Regions from separate parts of the Homo sapiens genome. Here region 2 is linked to region 1. The links come from fine-mapping of genetic effects on gene expression. Tissue or cell type: whole blood. Region 1 holds a variant in brackets; the other region holds the start of a gene. All regions are shown on one strand. Distances are from middle to middle.

Region 1 (2,676 bases):
GCTGGCCCCGGGCATGCGGGCCTCGAGAGGGCAGGTGGCAGGGCCAGCCGGACTCCCTTAGCAAGCAGGATCCGGGCCCTGGGGCGTGGGCGGGACCTCCTGGCTGGCAGGACAGGCTGAGGTTGCTCCTGTCTGGTGTCCTGGCGCTAACTGCAGTTCCAGTAACCCTGTGGCTTTCCTGCTCTGTCTGTTGGTGGAGGGCTATCTTCACTCTAAGTGTGTCAATGGCGTGGGGCCTTCTGGGGCATGTCCCCAGGAAGTCTGTGAGGAGACCGGGACAGTCGCAAGGGCAGATGCTGCCAGGGACAAGTACACTGCAACCCCCCTCCTGTTGGACAGTGTCCTCCCACCCCGAGGCCATGGGTGGGTCTATGGAGAAGCAGATTACCCCCCGCACACCGAGTCTTCTGGGGGGCGACCAGCCAAAGGTCAATCAGCCAGGTCCGTCCACAGGGCTGGAGAGGCCAATGCATCCAGCTAGACAGGACCAGCCTGCACTGGGTGGAGGAGGGGCTAGAGCAGAGAACCAGAAGGTCCAGCCCGGCCGATCATGAGCTCTGTGAGCCCAGGTCGTGGCGTCTTCCAGCACCTCCAGCCTTGCTCAGAGCCAGCCCGGTGTCGGTGCATCACAAATATGCTGACCGCTGGGCCTGGGGCTTAGGCTCAAGGTGCACACCTGAGGTCTGCTGGTGCCCATCAGAGGCAAGAGCAGTCGTGACCCCGGAGAAGCTTCTCCGGACAGCTTGTCCTCGCTGTTGGGGCACGGCCTTCACCCTGGGTTCCAGCTTTTGCTTCCAGGGTCATCTTCCGAGTGTGGCTCTCTGGTGTGAAGCACCCACGTGTACTTTTTAGAAAGGTGCTGGCATCTCCCTTAGAGGCTGGAACTTGGACTTGCTGGCCCTGAGTGTGAGGAACAGTGGAGCATGCAGGTCTGGGGCGGGCGGCCACATCTGACAATGGTCCAGTGAAAGATGGACGTGTCCAGTGCCAGCTCCACGCTCCACCTGGTTCCCTCCTGAACCTGCTACACGTGCTTAGCCTCCACCCGCCCCAGCTCCTGCCACGCACGTGGCTGAGGGCAAGAGGAAGAAGTCCTCTTCTCTCCCCAACTTTTTATTTTTTATTTTTTTTCAAGACGGAGTCTCACTCTGTTGCCCAGGCTGGAGTGCAGTGGTGCGATCTGAGCTCACAGCAACCTCCACCTTCCAGGTTCAAGTGATTCTCCTGCCTCAGCCTCCCGAGTAGCTGGGACCACAGGCACACGCCACCACGCGCGGCTAATTTTTTGTATTTTTAGCAGAGACAGGGTTTCACCATGTTGGTCAGGCTGGTCTCGAACTCCTGACCTCAGGTGATCCACCCGCCTCGGCCTCCCAAAGTGCTGGGATT[A/G]CAGGCGTGAGCCACCGTGCCCAGCCCCCACCTTTTTATTTAGAAAATCTTCAACACCACAGGAAACTGCATAGATCAGAATGAACAACACCTTCTCCCCGAAATTACAACCATTTGCCAAAAATACCAAAATTGTGACCATTTTGCTACATTGCCCCCCTCCAACTGAGGCATCTGAGAGTTTCTTATAAACATCATGGCACTGGAGCCCTAAACTCGCCCACAGACACCTGAGAGCACAGCCGTCTTCCTCAGTCCCCCCCGGGCAGGGTGCGCTGCCGTCCTCCCAGTCCGCCCCCACCGGGCAGGGTGCGCTGCCGTCCTCCCAGTCCCCCCCCCGGGCAGGGCGCGCTGCCGTCCTCCTAGTCCGCCCCCCCGGGCAGGGTGCGCTGCCGTCCTCCCAGTCCCCCCCGGGCAGGGTCCGCTGTGGGGCGCTTCACGTCCACATGCTTCTAATACTCGGTCCCAGTGCAGATGTGCCACTTGCCCCAATAATTCCTTCTCTAGTTGTTGCTTTGTTGTTTTTGCAAACAAGATTGTATCCAGAGTCACATGCTGTGTTTGGTTATCATATCACTTCAGTCTCTTTTGTTCTAGAACATTCCTGCCCCTTTTTGTCTTGTATGACATTGACGTTCTGGAAGATAACTTCACTTTGGGTTTGCCTGATTGCGCCCCCAAGTAGGTCCAGGTTGAGTTTTGGGGCAGGAGTTCTACCCCAAGGGATGCCATGTCCTCCCCAGCTGGGTGGGGACGTTTGTGGCAGCAGCGCTGACCACGGCTGCGGGGGTGGTTTCTGAACCTCCACTGCACGAACACCACGCTGTCTGGTTAATAAGCACCGGTGGTGACCTGTGGAACCAACCGCTGCAGCGCGGTTCTGTGTTCGCCGCCCCTCGTCCGAGCGTTCCCCCCTCCCCTCCCTTTTTCCATCACGTGAGTTTTGAACGTGCAGTAATCCTTCACTGCCACTGCCGTGCATTTGATGGGGACCAGCGGGGGCCCTGAGCGCTTCCCATCTTTGGCACAAGCCCCTGTTCCTAGCTCACCCCAGACTTGCTGATCCCCCCATCCCTGCACGGGCCTTGGTCTTGGCCATTTCTCCAGGTTCCCTGAGTGGGGAATGGTGCTGAGACCCTCCTTTGAGTGATTGTTTTGGATAGTTTTTGTTTTCTTGCTGTCTGTTTAGAGTAGTGGTTCTCAAACCCTGCTTGGGCCATCCCACTGGGGAGCTGGGACACCACCTGGCACTGTGGTGGCAGTGGGGGTGACACTCAGACAAGGGCC
Region 2 (2,676 bases), 27 kb before region 1:
TTCTTGACCCTCATACAGCCCTTACGGGTACTTATTCTATTTTACAGATGGGGAAACTGAGGCTCCACAGAGTCATATCCGAGCCTGAGGCCGCACAGGGAGTGCTGGCGCCGGTTCTCAGGGCAGGGGTTGTGTCTGCTCTGTCACATGTCACACGGGGGCTCCCCCAGGCCTGCCTTCCTCTGCCCTCCCTCTAGCTGCCAGTGGCCCCCAAACCCCAGGCCTGGTGCGCTGCTTCCTGCAGCTCTGACTGAGGGTCAGACGTCAGAAGGGACTTCCAGAGCTGGGGTCTGGCTCTCATCCAACCAGGCTGGCTTTCAGAGCCGACTATGGGCACGCCCCATGCTGGTCAATGTCGGCGGTGGGGGGATGGGTGCCCCCCTCAATCTAGGAGACAGATGAGGCCGGACAGCAGAGGGGTGGCAGAGAAAACCCACCCCATTGCGACACCTCCGCGGCCCTCATGCAGCTGTCTCCACCAACCGGCGAAGTGCGGCTGCCCAAGACCGCCGAGACCCCATCAAGGGTGGAAGGGGGTCAGGCAGGGCTGCGGAGAGGAGGCCACATGGGTGGCCTGGTTGATGGGTAGGCTCTCTCTCCCCAAAGCCTGGGAAGAGCCATCTCTGCTGAGGGATCCCCGAACGCGGGGACTCCGGATCCGGCTGGCTGGAACGGGAGTCCCGGGCCGGGGCAGAGAGAGGTGAGCGGCGCCTGGGAGGCCAGTCCCACCGGAGGATAGGGGTGTAGGTGGACGGGAGGCGGTGGAGGGCAGGGACGGGGCGGACAGTGGGGGCTGAGGCGGGAGACGGCCCCGATCTGCGCGTCCCACCCCCATCTCCGCCCACCAGGAGCCAGGCCAGCAGGGACCGCGAGGGGGCGGCCAGGTTATTCACGGGAGTGGGGAGACCCCTTAAAGCGCCCTCAGGGACCGGCCACAGTGGGCGGGGCCACCCCCAGCCACCCACCTCCCCCCCCAGGCCCCGCCCCCGGCCCGCGCTCGCTCCCCACGTGGCCGCTGACGGGCGGGGCGGCACCTCCTCTTCCTCCCGCCCGCCCCGCCCGCCCCGCGCCCGCCAGGAGCCACCGTCCGAGCCTTGCGGAGCGCGGCAGTGGGCGCCGGCTGCCCGCAGCCCCTGACCCGGCCCCGGACGGAGCGCCGGCCGCACCACCGCCCTCTGGCCGTTGCCTCACCGGGTAAGTCCTTGGCCTCGGGGTCCGCTTGGAGCTTCAGGGGAAACTGAGTCCGGGAGGAGGCAGGGGCGTGCTTGGGTCCAGGAGCGAGGTTCCGGGCTGCGGCGTGTGTGCCCAGGTGGCGGCGGGCGGTCCGGCGGCGCAGGGTACAGTTCCCGGGCGGGGACCCCAGGGCGCCCCTGGCCCCCCCGGCTCCGCGCGCCCCGCTCGGGACTATGGTCCTCCGCGCCGAGGCACCGCCCGAGCGCGCACTGGCCGCAGAGTGGTGGGCCCAGGGTCGGCCGGGCCTACTCCCAGGGCAGGCGGGATTTCCGCGCCTCGCGGCTGCCACATCCTGACCATGAATCAGCCACAGTTGGGAAAATAAACTTCAACTTCGGGTCCGCCGCCCGGGTGGCACCCCGAGGTGCGCGCCGGCCTGCGGCCCCACCCTGACTGCTTGGCTTCCAGCTGCCCACGCGCAGGTGGGCGCACAGGGAGCCCTTCCCACCCCGCAACCGCTGGCAGGCTTAGGGGAATCAGCCTCCATCACAGCTCTCTGTTCCTTTTGGGTGGGGTAGGATCCAATCCCTGTACGCCCCCAGACCCACCCGTCAACCCTCTAACTGGGGAGTCGCCCCAGGAGTGACCATGACTAAGGAGGGGAAGGCGGGGTGACCAGCTGTGTCCCTGACCGTCCCCAATGCCCCCTGGGGAGCACAGGCGTGGGGGGTGGTCTGTCTGTCTGGGCCTTCTGGGGCTCAAGCTCCCCACCCAGGGCTCCCGCAGCTCAGCTGTGACCACAGCATTACTGCCCACTCCAGCTGGACACACCAGGAGGCAGAGAGGCAGAGACCCTGCCCAGGCAGGGAACCAGGAACCCAGGAACCGGGCCAGAGGTCAGGCACACCCAGAAGGCGCTGGACGTAGGAAATTCCCTTACTGCCAGCCCTGCCCCTCCGTCTGGCACTGGAATGGAGCAGGATACTCGCCCTCTTCCGGCCTCAGTTTCCACATCTGCACTCTGAAGGGTGGGACAGCAGCTCAGGCTGGGACCTGCTCCCTGCCGCCCTGCACTGGGAAGGTGGGGTCCCAGAGCAGTGCCTCAGACCCCGAGGGTGCCACCCAGCCAGGGGCTTTTGGGGTGTCGGTGCTCAGCCCCCAGTGCAGCAAATAGTAGCATTGGGTTCCAGGCCTGGGGTCTGAGACCTCACACTGCTCCCACCCCTACCAGGGCAGCAGCAATTTTCTGTTCTAAAAGCCAGGTTGGTGCAGTGGGCCCTGCCCAGGCCCTGCCCTCCCATCCCTGGACTGTCATGGGCCCTGCAGCCCGGCAAAGGGGATGTCGCTAGTGGGGACGGACCAAGTGGCCAGGTGCGACTGTAGCCTCCACAGCCAGGGCTCCTGAGTTAACCTTCAGGTGAGCGCCCACTTTGTGGAGGAGCTGACGGCTGTCAAGCGAATGACACACACCGCACATGTGGGGACGTGGAAGCTCCTACCTGA

Evidence for each region. PIP is the estimated chance that this variant, and not a neighbour inherited with it, causes the effect.
Region 2: it holds the start of INF2, and the variant in region 1 is fine-mapped to the expression of INF2 in whole blood (TOPMed, PIP above 0.99).

What each region holds. Positions count from the first base shown.
Region 1 is chr14:104,715,577-104,718,252 of GRCh38, forward strand. The region is part of intron 22 of INF2 (inverted formin 2); the gene reads left to right. Among named protein-coding and RNA genes, the nearest start is that of ADSS1, 7.3 kb to the right of the region's middle. RefSeq lists an enhancer at 1-39. The variant A/G (reference allele first, on the strand shown) is at 1,390.
Region 2 is chr14:104,688,546-104,691,221 of GRCh38, forward strand. INF2 (inverted formin 2) reads left to right here and starts at 1,073. Exons shown (of 23, transcript NM_022489.4): 1 at 1,073-1,194. RefSeq lists enhancers at 1-54, 55-1,044 and silencers at 737-996, 1,097-1,186, 1,207-1,446, 1,537-1,586.